4 linked regions of the Homo sapiens genome follow. The protein of the gene in region 4 purifies or fractionates together with the protein of the main gene of each other region. This does not show direct contact. Each region holds a gene or a part of one and is shown on either strand. Other genes may lie near its edges. The genes, in order: PDCD6, SEPHS1, ST13 and CLIC4.

Evidence for each region.
Region 1: the proteins of CLIC4 (region 4) and PDCD6 fractionate together in Homo sapiens (co-fractionation; one large-scale study listed by BioGRID). This does not show direct contact.
Region 2: the proteins of CLIC4 (region 4) and SEPHS1 fractionate together in Homo sapiens (co-fractionation; one large-scale study listed by BioGRID). This does not show direct contact.
Region 3: the proteins of CLIC4 (region 4) and ST13 fractionate together in Homo sapiens (co-fractionation; one large-scale study listed by BioGRID). This does not show direct contact.

Annotation. Positions count from the first base shown.
Region 1 is NC_000005.10:302,174-306,779, reverse strand, and holds part of PDCD6 (programmed cell death protein 6), read right to left. Parts: intron 2,604-4,606; coding exon 2,559-2,603; intron 179-2,558; coding exon 20-178; intron 1-19. UniProt on the Homo sapiens protein: Calcium sensor that plays a key role in processes such as endoplasmic reticulum (ER)-Golgi vesicular transport, endosomal biogenesis or membrane repair.
Region 2 is NC_000010.11:13,330,741-13,335,346, forward strand, and holds part of SEPHS1 (selenide, water dikinase 1), read right to left. Parts: intron 3,232-4,606; coding exon 3,077-3,231; intron 1-3,076. UniProt on the Homo sapiens protein: Synthesizes selenophosphate from selenide and ATP.
Region 3 is NC_000022.11:40,828,720-40,833,325, forward strand, and holds part of ST13 (hsc70-interacting protein), read right to left. Parts: intron 3,953-4,606; coding exon 3,850-3,952; intron 2,238-3,849; coding exon 2,121-2,237; intron 956-2,120; coding exon 907-955; intron 1-906. UniProt on the Homo sapiens protein: One HIP oligomer binds the ATPase domains of at least two HSC70 molecules dependent on activation of the HSC70 ATPase by HSP40. Stabilizes the ADP state of HSC70 that has a high affinity for substrate protein.
Region 4 is NC_000001.11:24,811,165-24,815,770, reverse strand, and holds part of CLIC4 (chloride intracellular channel protein 4), read right to left. Parts: intron 1,678-4,606; coding exon 1,552-1,677; intron 1-1,551. UniProt on the Homo sapiens protein: In the soluble state, catalyzes glutaredoxin-like thiol disulfide exchange reactions with reduced glutathione as electron donor. Can insert into membranes and form voltage-dependent multi-ion conductive channels.

The sequences.
Region 1 (4,606 bases), on a different chromosome or scaffold from region 4:
GCCAGAGTGAGTGAGTTACCGAAACCTGAGAGGGCCTGCTTCAGCTCGTTCTTATCGATCATCCCGGAGTTGTCCCGGTCGTACGTGCGGAAGACGTTCTGCCAGTCCGTGATGTACTTCCACACACCCGTGAACTCGCTGAAGTTCACGCCGGCCTTGTTCTCACGGTCAAACATGGCTGAGACAGAGAGGAACGGTCAAGCAGCAAAAGATCAGTTGCAGCAAACTCACTTGAGGCTTCCCACCAGACCTCAGCCCTCAGAGCCTGGCGGGGCCCCACTGCTGACCACTAACCAGGGACTGGGCAATGCATGCCTGTCTGTGAATGGGGTGAAATCCCTTAAAGTCTTGTCACCTTCGCCCTGGGTGGGGGTGTGGGGGATTGTCCCCCAGCCCTGACCCCCTAAGTCCCAGGAGAAGGTGCACTTGCAGCTGTGAGGCAGGCCGTGCAATGGGATGTGTGAGGAAATCCAGCCGCAGCCACGACAGAAAGAAGAGCAGAGCTTCACACTCAGCTTCCGAGGCACGGGGAAGGTAAGTGGCCCCAGCTCCCCTGGCTCCTGGGTCTCGGCCTAGAACGCGAATCTAATTCCCAGAGCTGACCCTCTGACTCTCCAGGGCCCACAGCACTGGTGGAGTCTTGGAACAGCCCTGTCAGGAAAACCTGCTTTAATTAGAAACAGACCCTCGCCTATGTCCTATTTGCTTTCAGTCTAACTCCAGGTCCAAATACAAAAGAATCTATAACTACCTTTATATGTAGTTGCAATATGGCTAAAAAACATAGAAAAATTCAGTGTGAATTACTGCTGCAGAGAAAATGATAAATCACGTGGTCTCTTTTCAAGAACAGAGGTTAATACAGGACTGCAATAAGACTACTCCTGGTTTGATCAGAAATATGTTACAATTAAATGAAAATCCACAGGATGAAAAATCATGTGAGAAACAGCATCGATGTTTCTTCCCAACAGTCCACAACCCTGTGTGCAACCAGTGGCTGTTTTTCACACAACCGTTCCACGACGTGCACCGTTCCACGACGTGTGTGGTGTGTGGACCAGGGGCTGTTTTTCATACGACCATTCCACGATGTGTGCAGTGTGTGTGGACGATGCTGTTGCGTGCAGGACCCACTGCGCACCACACACCAGCAGGGAAGGATGCTGGGTGAGCTGCACCCCAGGGTAAGGGCTCCGCAGAGGAGTGGCTCCCAGGCCATTCCTCTCCGGTGGGGAGGTAGCTCCCCATGTATCAACACCTTTTCTAGCACTAAAGGCTGAGCCCTGCCACTACTACACTTCCAAGTTTTCTCTCCCTCCATCAGTGTGACGTAGCAACATATGCACGACCAGCAGGGCACAGTCATCTGGAAAAGCCCCCAGCTACACCCACACTAGGACTCAGACACCTCACCACACACAGGCTCCGCAAGGAACTCAGGGAATCCTCACAAGACTAAAACACGTGCATGGATGGGAGGCGAGGGAATGAGCCCCAGGCCGCTCTGGGAAACCTCGAGACACAATGCCATGGTCCCTGTGAGGCAGAACTGAACCTGGGATTCCATATTAAAGAGGTCTGAAGGGGGCTGCACCTCCCAGCAAAGGGAACCTTCCAGAAATCAAGTCGGGTAGGGATGGAAACATGACTCTCCTGAACACCTGCCTCCCAGGCCTGCCTGCCCCTGGAGCTGCAGCTCCCACCTGGCTACGGGGGATGGAGACACAGCACGACTCTCCTGAACACCTGCCTGCGCCTGGAGCCTCAGCTCACACCCCGGCTACCGTCTGGGCATGGGGGTGCACACCTGTAATCCCCACTTTTTGGGAGGCTGAGGCAGGAGGATTGCGTGAGCCCAGGAATTCCAGACCAGGCCTGGGCAGCACAGGGACACCCTGTCTCTTAAAAGAAACAAACAAAAACCCAGCTGCCTATACAGCTGGGGAGACCCTGGACCCAAAGAAATGATGCAGACCCTCACATTAAGGCTACACATGAACCCACAAAACAAACAAAAATTACAGAAGCATCAAGGAAGTTGGTCACTCTGTGTGGGCTTGAGCAGGAAAAATATCTGGCTGTAGACCACCCTCCCAAGGACTTCAAACACAGTCAAGGAGCTCCATGTCACAAATATCTAGCGCTTTTCAAAAAAGCATGTTCTTAAAACTGAAGACTATCATATGAAATATTTGAATAAAGAATGGAATCACAAAAATAAATAAGCAATGTCTATCAAAAACACCCAGATAAGATGTGAAAGTAACTAATAATTTAGAAATTTTAAATATATGTCATCTTTAGAATTAGAAACTGAAAGGACAGGTTACACCGTACATTAAAAATAAACAGAATCAAGAATAGAGCAAACATACACGGAGAGATGTGAAAAGGTACAGAGACGGAGGGAGAGGGATGAAAGGGCCGACGCTCATCTAAGTGGAATTCCAGAAGGGAGCAAAGTGATACGGACCCACAGACAAAGGAAACACAAGCGGGTACCCAAGCGGGTCGGATACAAAGCAGCCCAGGTTGGTCCGTCTGCCGATACTTACATATGATCGACCTGACAGTCACTGGATTAAAGGGAGTCCACGTGCCTGAAAACAAACAACAACAGGAGTTAAAGTAAAAGGAAAATCTTTCTGGGACACTGAGTTTGTGATCTATACCTGGAGGCACCAGGAAAAGCAGTGGGGGCTCTAAGGTAGTGGTTTTCTAGACACTCCAGGTGACGTGTCGGCTGCCATGACTCCTGGGAGGGGGCCAAAGCACTGCCTGGTGGGTTCACACCCTGCTGTGTGTGGGAGTCCTTCGTGGCCTCCCAGACCTCCAAGGCCGTCCACAGTCATCGCGGCTGGACATGCACTCTTATTTAACAGATAACCAAGAAATGGTTCTGTATCATTTTACACACAGAATTTTTCAAGGATGCAGTCACCAGCTAAGTTGAGAAGTTCGCACTTAGTTTTGTTAGAGGACTTCACGAATTCCCATTTCAGAAAATCCATCATCAAGGCCACCACTGCCTGCAGACACCTGAACATAGCTTGGTCGCTGTGGCATTCACACTAATTCTACTGAAAGGTGCAAGTACCAGACCCCTTCCTTCCGTTCTCCCTCAGTAATCATCCTAAAGCACGGTGAAGACATCCATCACACCACACTTCAAACATTCCTGACAAATTACGGTCTGGGCTTTATATGATTTTCCTTGAAACTGAATAGGAAAGCTGTACTATCCTCAGACTCATCGTTGAATCTGATACCCTTGAGCGCTCACAACCATTTATCAACTCTGAGAATGAAGATTCACTGATGACCTTCGCACACAAGAACCTATCTTCAGAGTGATTTGTACCTTCAGTAATTTCCATACTCACTAAAAATGAACTAAAAAAATATTTTTAAGGTCAGGAGAGACCAGTGGCTCTCCTCATACCCCGTCTGTGTTAGACACACAGTTTTTTTTTTTTTTTATGCACAAAAATGCCACAGTCCTGGGCAGTACACAGAGACAGCCCCCTGATCTCAGAGAACAATGTCAGGCTCCTGGTGGAGCACGGGCGGTGGGGTCTGCTGGCATGGTCCCTTAGGCCTCTACGTGCCACCACTCTGGGCTCATGGGGCTCCTCCTAGTGCCATGCCCGCTCTCACCTGAAGTGCGTCCCCTCCTAAGACACACACACCCTCCCTCCAGCTCCTTCCTTTCCTTCCTCAGGGAGACTTCCACGGGGGTACCACATTCTCCCAGCCCAGAAGTTAAATCCATTTGCTCCGCCTGAGCACCTCCCAACTTCCCCTTGGGAAGATCCCGCCCTCCAGCAGTTATGCAGGGAAGCTGTGCTCTTCCCACAAAGGCAGGTGCACCTGAACCTGAGGCATACACACAGAGCAGCACTCAATGATCCGCCCTCCAGCAGTTATGCAGGGAAGCTGTGCTCTCCCCACAAAGGCAGGTGCACCTGAACCTGTGGCCCACACACACAGCACTCGATGACCCACCCTCCAGCAGTTATGCAGGGAAGCTGTGCTCTCCCCACAAAGGCAGGTGCACCTGAACCCGTGGCCCACACACACAGCAGCACTCGATGACCCACCCTCCAGCAGTTATGCGGGGAAGCTGTGCTCTTCCCACAAAGGCAGGTGCACCTGAACCCATGGCATACACACAGAGCAGCACTCGATGACCCGCCCTCCAGCAGTTATGCAGGGAAGCTGTGCTCTCCCCACTAAGGCAGGTGCACCTGAACCCGAGGCATACACACACACACACACACACACAGCAGCAGCACTCCATGACCCGCCCTCCAGCAGTTATGCAGGGAAGCTGTGCTCTCCCCACAAAGGCAGGTGCACCTGAACCTGAGGCATACACACAGAGCAGCACTCCACGACCCACCCTCCAGCAGTTATGCAGGGAAGCTGTGCCCTTCCCACAAAGGCAGGTGCACCTGAACCTGAGGCCCACACACACAGCAGCACTCGATGACCCGCCCTCCAGCAGTTATGCAGGGAAGCTGTGCTCTTACCACAAAGGCAGGTGCACCTGAACCCGAGGCATACACACACACACACACACACAGCAGCACTCCACGACCCG
Region 2 (4,606 bases), on a different chromosome or scaffold from region 4:
ACGCAAGAAACTTGTTTTCCAAAAACCAGACCTGAAGACATAAATGTCTTCGAATTCAGACTCAGTTGTACCATAAAGTTGATGTTCTTTTTTTTTAAATTTTTTAAAATTATACTTTAAGTTCTAGGGTACATGTACACAACATGCAGGTTTGATACATAGGTATACATGTGCCATGTTGGTTTGCTGTACCCATCAACCCGTCCTTTACATTAGGTATATCTCCTAATGCTATCCCTCCCCCAGCCCCCTACCCCCGACAGGCCCTGGTGTGTGATGTTACCCGCCCTGTGTCCAAGTGTTCTCATTGTTCAACTCCCACCTATGAGTGAGAACATGCGGCGTTTGGTTTTCTGTCCTTTTGATAGTTTGCTTAGAATGATGGTTTCCAGCTTCATCCATCTCCCTGCAAAGTACATGAACTCATCCTTTTTTACGGCTGCGTAGTATTCCACGGTGTGTATGTGCCACATTTTCTTAATCCAGTCTATCATTGATGGACATTTGAGTTGGTTCCAAGTCTTAGCTATTGTGAATAGTGCTGCAATAAACATATGTGTGCATGCGTCTTTACAGCAGCATGATTTATAATCCTTTGGGTATATACCCAGTAATGGGATTGCTGGGTCAAATGGTATTTCTAATTCTAGATCTTTTTTTTTTGAAACTGAGTTTCACTCTGTCACCCAGGCTGGAGTACAGTGGCACGATCTTGGCTCACTGCAACCTCCGCCTCCTGGGTTCAAACCACTCTCCTCAGTCTCCTGAGTAGCTGGGATTACAGGCGCCTGCCATCGTGCCCGGCTAATTTTTTGTATTTTTAGTAGAGACAGGGTTTCACCATGTTGGCCAGGGTGGTCTTGAACTCCTGACCTCAGATGATCCACCCGTCTTGGCTTCCCAAAGTGCTGGGATTACAGGCATGAGCCACCACGCCCGGCCAAAAGACTGACTTTTCTTAACAAGACATCAAACATGGAAAGTGACAACTTGGTTAGGAGAGAAACTTCTCCAAAGAAGATACACAAATGGGTAGTAAGCACATGAAAAGATGCTCGGCCTCATCAGTCATCAGGCAGACACAAATCAAAACCACAAAGACATTCCACTTCACACCCAGTAGGCTGGCTAGAATCCAAAAGACAGACAGGAAAACAAGTACTGGAGGGGTCATAGAGAAATTGGAATCCTCATACATTGCTGCTGGGAACGTAAAATGGCGCAGCCATGTTGGAGACCAGTCTGATGATTCCTCAAGTTAAACATAATTACCACATGACCCAGTCAATTCTTAGGTATACACCCAAGAGACCGGAACTTATGTCCACACAAAAACTTAGAATGTTCATGGCAGCATCATTCCTAATAGGTGGAAACAACCCAAAGGTCCGTCACCTGAGGAATGGCTAAATAAAGCAGGGTCCATCCATGCAATGGATTATACAGCCATGGAAAGGAATGCGATACCGATTCATGCTACAACACGGATGGACCCGGAAAACATTCCGCTATGGGAGTGAAGCCAGACACAGCATGTCATGCTGCACGATTCCATTTCTATACAATGTCCAGAACAGGCAAATCCTTAGAGACAAAAGCACATTCTTGGTTGCCAGAGGATGGGAGCAGGAGGGAAATGGGAGTGAGCTACAGGGCTTCTTTTTGGGGTGATGAAAACATTCTGGAATTGGATAGTGGTGATGGGTGCACAACCTTGTCAATACTAAAAACCAACACATTGTGTACTTCAAAATGCTGAATTCTATGTTATGTGAAATTTTGTTACGTGAATTATACTTCAACTAAAAAACCTAAAATGTCAGCCGGGCGCGGTGGCTCACGCCTGTAATCCCAGCACTTTGGGAGGCTGAGGCGGTCGGATCATGAGATCAGGAGATCGAGACCATCCTGCCTAACATGGTGAAACCCCATCTCTACTAAAAATACAAAAAATTAGCCGGGCATGGTGGCAGGTGCCTGTAGTCCCAGCTACTCGGGAAGCTGAGGCAGGAGAATGGCATGAACCCGGGAGATGGAGCTTGCAGTGAGCCGAGATCATACCACTGCACTCCAGCCTGGGCGACGGAGTAAGACTCCGTCTCAAAAAAAAAAAACAAAAACACCTAAAATGTCTTAAAAATAGGATTAAAATACTGACACATGCTACAAAATAGATGACCCTTAAAAGTATGCTAATACTATGCTAAGTGACAAAATCCAGGATGGAGCAGGAGTGAACAGTGAGAGCCGAGGAGGATGGGGTTTCTTCCTGTAGCAATGAAAACATCCTAACATCAACTCCGGTAATGGCTGTACAACTCTGAGTATACTCCAAACCACTGACTCTTTAAATGGGTGAATGGTATAGTACGCAAATTATATCTTAATACATCTATTTTTTTTTTTTTTTGAGATGGAGTTTCGCTCTTGTTGCCCAGGCTGGAGTGCAGTGGCGCGATCTTGGCTCACTGCAGCCGCAGCCTCCTGGGTTCAAGTGATTCTCCTGCCTCAGCCTCCCAAGTAGCTGGGATTACAGGCATGTACCATCATGCCTGGCTAATTGTGTATTTTTAGTAGAGATGGGGTTTCTCCATGTTGGTCAGGCTGGTCTCAAACTCCCAACCTCAGGTGATCCACCCGCCTTGGCCTCCAAAAGCGCTGGGATTACAGGCATGAGCAACCGCGCCCAGCCTTGCGTTCTTGTCTTTTTTTTTTTTGGAGACAGAATCTTGTTCTGTTGCCCAGGCTAGAGTGCAGGGGCATGATCTCAGCTCACTGCAACCTCCACCCCTGGGGTTCAAGCGATTCTCCTGCCTCAGCCTCCAGAGTAGCTGAAACTACAGGCTTGCCCCACCATGCCTGGCTAATTTTTGTATTTTTAGTAGAGACAGGGTTTCGCCACATTGGCCAGGCTGGTCTCAAACTCCTGACCTCAGGTGATCTGCCCGCCTCGGCCTACCAAAGTCTGGGATCATATGTGTGAGCCACTGCACCTGACCTTAATACATCAATTTTTAAAAAGAGAGGACAGAGAGAGAAAAACAGGTCAGGTGATATGAAACAAAAATCAACTTACATGATAAATTCATTGGGTTGGCAGACAGTGGTAGCCACTCCTCCCAGGACAATCCAGGGGTTTAGTACTGTTTGGCCGCCTGTTACAGATGTTCCTGCTTCCTCAGCTGCGTCTTTAAAACCTTGGATAATCAGAGGCATCACTTTATCCCTTTCCTAAGGTTGAAAAAGGTACAAATAAAAAGTCAAAGAATTCTGTTCAAAACCCAGAAAAGAAGGTTTTTACACTTACAGTTATAAAAAGAACCATAAAATCCTAAAGGAAGTCCTCAAAGTTTACAGACAGGGAAGGTTGTTAGGGGCCAGGCATAATCGCTCACGCCTGTAATCCCAGCACTTTGGGAGTCCGAGGTGGGCAGAGAGCTTGAGCCCAGGAGTTTAAGACCAGTCTGGGCAATGCAGACAGACCCCTTTCTCTACGAAACATGTAAAAATTGCTGGGTGACCGGGCACAGTGGCTCATGCCTGTATTCCCAGCACTTTGGGAGGCTGAGGCGGGCAGATCACCTGAGGTCAGGAGTTTGAGACCAGCCTGGCCAACATGGTGAAACCCCGTCTCTACTAAAAATACAAAAATTAGCCGGGTGTGGTAGCATGCGCCTGTAATCCCAGCTACTTGGGAGGCTGAGGCAGGAGAATCGCTTGAACCTGGGAGGCAGAGGTTGTAGTTAGCCAAGATCGCATCACTGCACTCCAGCCCTGGGCACAAGAGTGAGACTTCATCTCAAAAACAAAAAAAAAAAATATTGCTTGGTGTGGTGGCATGTGCCTGTGGTCCCAGCTATTCCGGAGGCTGAAGTGGGAGGATGTCTTGAGCCCGGGAGGCTGAGGCTGCTGCAGTGAGCTCTCATCACACCACTGCACTCCAACCTGGGCAACACAGGGAGATCTTGTCTCAAAAACAAACAAAAACAAAAGCTAGAAAATATTTCACATTGTCATCATTTTATCCAATGCTGGAAGATGTTCTAGACAACAATGTAAATAAAGCCCAGACACCAACATTGTCTGGACTCAGTGCACAGGACCAGCCCTAGGTCTGATGACTGCTGGAAGCCAGCTGTCCAGTGCTCCTTGAGAATCTCAAGACTGGCTTCCTAAGCACAGGTCCCCTGCCCTGCAGTAGGCATCCATCCTACCAAGGCTTGGCTGCAGGCTACGAGTAACCCACACTGACAGAGCCTGCGCCAAGACCACCATGCACCACTGATGACTACAGCCCATGTTCAAGGGCAGGAAAGAGCCTACTGGAAACTCAAGTTTCTCTAAGGCAGGGCAAACTGTTGGGGGCTCTTGGGACAAAAACAAGTACCTGTCTATCTAAATAGGAATTCATCTCTGGTTCAAAGAACAGGTTCAGGCAGCAAGGGCACAGAATGCTAGGCGATGACACAGAGGCGTGAGCCCCTGGTGGCCCTATCCCCCGTCACCATCTACGTCCACGACATCCCCAGCCACAGCAGAGGGAGTGCCCTCTAAGTGCCACGTGTCCCACATCTGTAAGGCTGTGCCTGATTCACACTGAGGCACC
Region 3 (4,606 bases), on a different chromosome or scaffold from region 4:
TTTACCTGCTTCCACAGTTAATTAAAATATGGCCATTAATAACTAACAATCAGAGATGAAGAAATCTAAGGGGACCATAAAACAACTTCTAGTTTCTCTTGCTGCCCCTACTTATCCCAAAGCTTTGAAAAATTAGTGCCTACCCGTAACGAAATTACTGACCCAAAGCTTGTCAAATCTAAATAAAATGTACATAACAGAAAATTCTCTCTAGTACTAGCCCAACATTAGCAGTCACTTTCTAAAACAAAGATATCTGACAATAAGATTATTTATATTTTACATAGGAAGTAAACTATGAGCTAAATTTAATTTCTTGCTTTTTCTTCAAACAGCAGGTCATCCTCAATATTTGTTCTAGGTTTGTTTTCTGTTGCTGTGCACATACTCTTTCAGAATAAAGGCTAGATTTTCTAGCATCGGATCATGCAACTAAGTTCTAACCAGTGACATATAAGCATACGTAGCCTCTAAAAACTTTCCTTAAGAGAAAGCTAGTTACCATTAAACAACTGGAGACAGTTGTTTAAAAAACAAAAAATTAAGTCTTGTCCTGGTCTTTATATAAATTCCACACTGTCGTAATCAGGAAGTACTCAATAAATCTTCTGCGTGCCTTTTCCGTCTCTTCTATCTCTGTGTTAGTCCTGTCCTCTGGTATTCAAAGATTTGCCTCACTAGCAATTTCTGATCACATTTGAAAGAAAAATACGCTATTTTTACACTGTACAAAAAACATCATTTTTATGCCTAATAATTCCATCATTTCTTTTACCTAGGTTCTTCATGAATATCACTGTATAAGAGAACAAAATCAGAATATCACTTTATAATAAATATTAAGTATTATATTAAAATATCACTGTATAATAGAACAAAACAGTTTTAACTTTTCTTTAAATATACCTGGAAAAGAGCCATACTGAGCTCCTGACTGTCGTCTGGCTTCTTCCTCCTTTGATACAAAAGGAAATAAATTATATAATAGAAGAAGAAATAAGTGCTGTCCATGCAACCTGTCCATGCAAGACCATGAAAAAATTGTAAAATAACCTAGTAGATGGCAATACTGAACTGAAGGATATACTTCATACCCCCTTCAAACATTTTTTCCAAACTGGATTCTCAGTGGGCATTATTCTTGGTAGTAATTTCAAGTAAAGTGTTTTACTTCTACTCTGGAAACAAGTAAACCTGGAAAACAATTTATAGTACTAATATGAAAACTCTAAATTCATCCTGGCTTTAAAACACCCATAGGGAAGGACATGGCTAGATTACCAAGACTACCATGACTTTTGTTTCCTAGGTACATCTTTTCCGTTATTCTCCCTACATAATACAAATGTAGATTTATTGATTTGTTTTTGCTGCTTTTTAAAAGAGAAAATGAACAAAAAATAAATATCCCTCATATGTAGTTTTAAAATTATTGAGGAGATATATTGCTTTTAAATATCAAGGAGATAAATTACTTTTAAAGATTATAAACTATAACCTTAAAATCAAGTATGATGCTTAATATTAAATGGACAAAAAATTAGAATGTAACATATTATATAATACAGCCTTAGGTTCTTTCATGTTCTTTCATTCAATAATGTTAGAAATAAGTAGGTGAATTATTGTAGCATCACACTATGTTGCCCAGGCTAGTCTCGAACTCCTGGGCTCAAGTGAACCTCCCACCACAGCCTCCCAAGAGCTGGGACTATAGGCACTTGCCACCTTGCCCTGCTAGAATCATTTTTAAATAGCAACACATCCACTGTTGGAAGAGAGGAGGAATCATAAATTTAATTAATCTGGCGAAGCATCCTCAAAAGATCAAACAATAATACTGTCACATTTCAATTACTTGACCTGGAAAAACAACTGATTTTATAAAAACACAAACAAGAATATAAAATGGTGAAATAAAAGCTCACTGAATAATTTAAGACTAAAAATGTCCCCCAAATTAGATACAGTGAAAGGAGACTCCCCATAAGTAATATCATTACTCTATAGAACTGTAGCCAGCATTAAATAAAAGAGCCAGGAATTAAAATTTTAGTGTCCTAATGCCTCTACATAATTTGCCGTATTTTCCTTTCATGGCTTAGCTATAGGAAATTTACCCTCTGGGCTCTCTCATGCTCTTCTCGAGCCTTCTTAACTCGTTCTATTCTTTCTTTGATCTCTCGCTCTTCACGTTTTCGCTCATACTTTCTCCGATGTTCTGCAATTTTCTGTGCCTAGAAAAAAGAGCCATAGCAAAATAAGCTTGCTCCAAAAGCTGAATAACATCAACACAAATATTCTTTGTAGAGAGATGTTTAATTCAACATGCAGTTCAGAAAAATGACAGATTTGTCTTGTACAAAAAGACCTAACACAAGCTAAGCCTTTAAGAAAACCAACCTCAACTGCATGAGGCACTGTAAAACAGAGTAAAGGGGCCTGGGATTTGAAGTTAGAAATGTTATAATCTCAAACAATTAAGCTCAAAGATTAACAAACAGGTTTCTAAGTGCATGACAATTCTTGCCTGCTAGTTTCTATCAGATACACAGTGTTTAGGTTTCAGACGGACAGCTGAATTCAGTAGGAAGAGTATTATTACGGATGTCTGCCGTGGGAAGGCAGAGACTGGGAACTCATACCCCAAGTATATGCCACAGTATATTTAAGTTTCTGTATCCATAAAATGGGAGAGGAAGAAATATTTAATATTATCAAATTGCTATAGGGATTAAGAGGGAAAAATGTAAATATGTATACCAGACACTAGTATCAAATAAATGCTCTGGATGTTATTTCCTCAGAGAATAAAATACATTTAAGAGATTCATATTCAACTGTCACTTTAGCTTGTTTACACTTTGCTGACAAAGTTACAACTTTGCCCTATTTTAAGAAGAAAACAGAAAACCAAATGAACTCTCTGGCAGTAAATAATTAAATTCAATACAATTCCCACTATCTTAAAATCTCTGAGAGTAAATTCTTGACAGCTGAACTTCCCACAAAATGAAGGATTTACCATGTAAACACATTAAAATTATTTTAACCAACAATTTTAGATAAAAATCATCCTTAAAAGCTGGAATGTTCTACTTTTGGGATTCAATATTATTATTTTTAAAAGATTGAAACTTCTTTGTTTTATTAAGACAGCCTCGCTCTGTCACCCAGGCTGGAGTGCTGTGGCGTGATCTTGGCTCACTGCAACCTTCCACCTCCCAGGTTCAAGTGATTCTCCTGCCTCAGCCTCCCGAGTAGCTGGGACTACGTAGGCGCATGCCACCACACCTGGCTAACTTTTTGTACTTTTAGTAGAGACAGGGTTTCACTACGTTGGCCAGGCTGGTCTTGAACTCCTGACCTCATGATCCACCTGCCTCGGCCTCCCAAAGTGCTGGGATTACAGGCATGAGCCACCGCGCCTGGCCGGAAAGCCTGAAACTTCTTAACTTCCACAAGGTCTTCTTGCTTTATAAAGTGGTTGTACACACCTATGATAAATAAGGACACATCAGATTCAATCCTGGGTAATGCTAATTATAGATTTTCTATTTGTTTCCTTGTTGTAAACCTGATACCCCCTTTTCTAATTTTCTGGTTATAATTCCACTGCAGGCTTCCAAACAAAGTAACAGAGTTTGCTCTAATAATGCATGAGAAATGAAAGCATGAAAACCTAATGAGATCTCCAGAGTCGAGCACAAACTTCAGCAATTACAGATTATATCTTCCAATGGTTTGTTTCTTTGCCTGTTTTTCAGATGAATTACAGCTGTCGGGGGCTAAGCACTACAGCGATGGAGTATTTAACTAATGACTTTCCCTTTCTCTACTTTGACATACCCTAGGTTGAACTTCTTTCAGCATTGCACTAGCATCTTCATCATAATCCAATTTACAGGCAAGGGCAAGATCATGGGCTGCTTCTTCCCAGTGGCCTAGAAGTCTGAAACAGATTTACACTCATTTTAGGAGCCTTTTATACATATTCACCTATGTGGCATGATATCTTTCTTCCTTACAAAAAAGGATTGTTCTAAAACAGGCTTAAGTTAAATATTAACTATAAACTTTCACTAACCAATTCAATTACTATATCCCATTTTAGTTAACTCTATAAAAACCTGAAAACATTTAAATTTCCTCTATTTAAAGCTGCTTTTCTACTAAAAGCTAAAAAACAAACAAAATCTTTCTTAATTCAGAATATCGTAATTTTCTAAGTATGTAGACCAGTAACTTTCAACTCGCCCAAACCAGGACTAACATAATGTGTTAGCTTTTAGCTACCTTCTATGTAAGACAGAAGAGAAAATAATACATGTGTACAGGCTTTACGAAAAACTCAGAACAAGTAAACCAGAAACTAAAGGTTGGTGACAGTAGGTGAGAATGGGGCAGAGGAGACAGCAACGAAAACTGAGAATTCACTGGGTATACCTTTTAACTCAGGTGTAACTCTTCGAACATTTAAATGCTTTACATACTCAAAAAATAAAATCAGAAAAATGGAAATAAAGCAAATCCTAAACCTGAATACAAACAGAAATAAGAAGCTGTGTGGCTGGGCGCGGTGGCTCACGTCTGTAATCCCAGCACT
Region 4 (4,606 bases):
GCAAAGAATATTTACTTTAAAATTTTTAAATGCTATCAAACACTATTGCATGTTACAGAGAAATCTTTCATGAAAGGAAGAGTCCATCAATGTAGAAAAATTCATTGTTATCTTACTTCAAGAAATTGCCACAGCCACCCCAACCAGCAATCACCATTCTGATCGGTCAGTAGCCAGCTACATCAAGGCAAGACCCTCCATCGGCAAAAAGATTGACTCGCTGAAGGCTCAGATAACCATTAGCATTTTTTAGCAATGATTTTTTTTTGAGACGGAGTTTTGCTTTTGTCACCCAGGCTGGAGTGCAGTGGCACGATCTTGGCTCACTACAACCTCTGCCTCCCTGGTTCAAGCAATTCTCCTGCCTCAGCCTCCCGAGTAGCTGGGATTACAGGTGCCTGCCACCACGCCCAGCTAATTTTTTTTGTATTTTTTAGTAGAGACGGGGTTTCTTCATGTTGGTCAGACTGGTCTCGAACTCCCAACCTCAGGTGATCCATCCGCCTCAGCCTCCCAAAGTGCTGGGATTACAGGCATGAGCCACCACACCCAGCCTAGCAATGAAGTATTTTTAAATTAAGGTACATGCAATATTTTCAGACATAATGCTATTATTGCACACTTAAAACACTACAGTATACTACTGTAAATATAACTTTTACATGCACTGGGAAACGAAAAATTTCACGTGACTCATTTTATTCCAATATTCATTTTATCACTGTGGTCTGGAACCTAACTCGCAATGGTCTGGAACCATACCCTTCAGGGTATGCCTATAATTATTTTAGAACCCTCCATCTCAATAATCCCATTCCTGGAAAATATATCTGGACATGGAGGGCAACAGTCAAGTTAACCAGTAAGAAAGGTTTTGGTCAGTAGAAACAAAACATGTCAATTTTCAGGATAATGAAACTGGAAAAGCCTAAAAGAAACAAATAATGCTTTGAATCTATGCCAATATTACAGTATGATGCAAAGCTGCATATCTGCAATTTAGGTAACTATCATTACAGTACATCCAGGACCTAGAGATCTGGAACACCTCAAAGAAGTAAGTAAATAAAAACTCTGAATCCTAGGGACACAGTCGGAAAAGTCAATGTCCTTGGATTATAGCTTTAGAAAGTTACCTTTAAAATGAACTGAAATCAAATCTCATTGCAGTCCTGTGCCACACTCCTGCTAAGACATTCTTACTGGGTTCAGTTGGAATGTGTCTTTCCCCACCCCTTCTCCTCTTTAAACTTCTCTCTCAGTTTGAGACCTACAGTCCACAAATAACCAGTCTTTCCTGACCTATCAGACACATCCCAAATCTGTTTCTACCACATATTCTACAGCTTAGACAAATCCCCACCTTTCTTAGTATGGCTGATTGGCCTAGCTGGAAGCCAATTCTTATATCTGTGTAGCATTAATTATAAGAAACATAGAAGAGAGTCCTAGTCATTCCAAATTAATGCTGCGAGAAAGATCTCTACTGACAAATAACACAAGCTTCAAAGAAGTGACAATATTTTCATACGTATTTTCCTTGATACTCACTTGGGAGGGCATAAGACTTCTTCAAGAAATTCCTCAATCTTATTTACATCCGTTTTGACTTCACTGTTGAAAGTTATAAATGGTGGGTGGGTCCCGGGAGCCAAGTTCTGCAGGTCTGCTGGCTTCCTGTTGGGCAAAATATTGGTCAAAATCAGATCATTTTTTACTCTTAAACAACAATAATACTTTAAATTCTCAAAGTTGGCCAGGCACGGTGGCTTGCGTCTGTAGTCGTAGCACTACAGGAGGCTGAGGTGGGACACTGCTTAGCCCAGGAGTTTGAGACCCAGCCTGGGCAACATGGTAAGATCCTGTCTCCACAAAACATAAAAAATTAGCCAGGCATGGTGGTGCGTGTCTATAGTACCAGCTACCAGGGAGGCTGAGGTGGAAGGATCACTTGAGCCTGGGAAGTTGAGGCTGGAGTGAGCCATGATCGCACCACTGCACTCCAGCCTGGGCGACAGAGAGACCCTGTCTCAAAAAGAAAATAAATAAATTGTCCGGGCATGGTGGCTCATGTCTGTAATCCCAGCCCTTTGGGAGGCCGAGGCGGGTGGATCACCTGAGGTCAGGAGTTTGAGACCAGCTTGGCCAGCATGGTGAAACCCCATCTCTGCTAAAAATATAAAAATTAGCTGGGCATGGTGGTGCGCACCTGTAGTTCCAGCTACTTGGGAGGCTGAGGAAGGAGGATCACTTGAACCCGGGAGGCGGAGGTTGCAGTGAGCTGAGAATGTACCACTGCACTCCAGCCTAGGTGACAGAGTAAAACCCTGTCAGAAAAGAAAAAGAAAAAGAGAAAAAGAAAAAGAAAAGAGATCAAAGTGGTTCTAAAATTTAAAGTATATAAAACTGAATAAGAAATGGTATTTTTCAGCCGGGCACGGTGGCTCACGGCTGTAATCCCAGCACTTTGGGAGGCCAAGGCAGGAGGATCACGAGGTCAGAAGTTTGAGACCAGCCTGACCAACATGGTGAAACCCCATCTCTACTAAAAATACAAAAGTTAATTGGGCGTGGTGGCATGTGCCTGTAATCCCAGCTACTCAGGAGGCTGAGGCAGGAGAATCGCTTGAATCCCGGAAGCAGAGGCTGCAGTCAGCAGAGATCTCACCACAGCACTCCAGCCTGGGCGACAGAGCAAGACTCCATCTTAAAAAAAAAAAAAAAGAAAGAAAGAAAGAAAGAAAGGTATTTTTCAACCAGGTGTGGTGGCTCACGCCTCTAATCCCAGCATTTTGGGAGGCCAAGGTGGGCAGATCATGAGGTCAAGAGATTGAGACCCTCCTGGCCAACATGGTGAAACTCCGTCTCTGCTAAAAATATAAAAATTAGCTGGGCATGGTGGCATGCACCTGTAGTTCCAGCTACTTGGGAGGCTGAGGAAGGAGAACCACTTGAACCCGGGAGGCGGAGGTTACAGTGAGCCAAGATCGCACCACTGCACTCCAGCCTGGTGACAGAGCAATACTCTGTCTCAAAAAAAAGAAAGAAATAGTACTTTTCCACTAGATATAATAGCTGTAATAGTATTCTAATAAGAAGCAAGCCTCCACAAAATACATAATTTATGGTAAGAAAATGCTTTGATTTTTTTTTTAACCAAAATACAAAATCCATCATTCTCATTCCAAATTAACTAAGTCACTCATTAGAGATAGTGATAGAATGAGGAGGGAAAAAAGATTTTGGAGAGTTAGTGTCTGGTTTCAACTCTGGCCCCAACTAATTGTGTAAAGATGGGTAAGTCATGACTTCCCTAGGCCTTTTTTTTTCTTTTTGGCAAAATAAAAGAGAAAAGCAGCTGAATCCTGCAGTCATCTTCAACTTCAAAAGATTCCAAATTCTGGTGCTATTTCTTTCCCATTATTCTAGAAGTCCAGGCTTGACAAGGAAAAGGATCACCAGATTAGACTATCTAATATCAAAATTACTTCAATACATAAAAGATGGCATAATGAAGGGTAAAAAGCAACAAAGAATGGACAAAGTACTGAGTGAGAAAAGCTTAAAATCTACATTACCTAAGGATTTTGTCCAAATTCATTCCAAAGGTCATCAAAAAAATCAAATAGGTATGGGTCAAAAGAAATTGATGAGAGACAGATAAAACAAGTGAACACACAGAAAAATGTAAAATAGCACAACTATAAAGGGAATTTAAAAGTAAACAATAAGATGTCTTCCTCCTGTTGATTAGGAAAAATTGAAAACACCACAAAACACTGATAAAGATGGTGAAACTGTTATGCTGACAACTACTAACAGCAAGAAGTGTTTGTACTATCTTGTTAAAAAAGCAAAATGGCTCACCCAAACCCACCAATGAATTTTAGGATCAAAAAATGAGATGACCAGATATGGTGTGTTTCCTATGGCACCATGAAGTATTCTTACCAAAGAAGTTGACCCTGAATCTAATCAAGCCTCTGGGGCAGGCTGGGTGCAGTGGCTCATACCTGTAACATTAGCACTTTGAGAGGCCAAGGCAGGAGGATTGCTTGAGTCCAGGAGTTCAAGCGAGACCAGCCTGGGCAACATAGTGAGATCCCATCTCTATAAAAAAATTTTTTTTAATTAGCTGGGTGTGGTGGCATGTGCCTGTAGTCCCAGCTACTTGGGAGGCTGAGATGGGAGGATTGGTTGAGCCCAGGCGGTCGAGGCTGCAGTGAACAGTGATCATATCACTGCACTTCAGCCTGGGCAACAGAGTGAGACCCTGTCTCAAAACAACAACAACAACAAACCAAAACAAAGCAGCCTCTGGGGCAGCTGTTTCTCAAATTGTAAGCCAGGAGACCCTTTCACCAGGTGATCCATTAGGTCAGAACTATTCTTATAATACTAAGGCATCATTTGCCTTTTTCACTCTCATTCTCCTCTCGTGCACATATAGTAAAATTTTCCAAATTTACTTGGCTACTTGGTACAAGATATCACAAGGTAATGAATGCAGAAGCAGACACGAGAAACCTCTTCTAAGATGTGCAAAAATGTAAAAGAATGCCACTCTTCTCACTATTTTTTGTTTTGGGAAATATAGTTGTTTTAC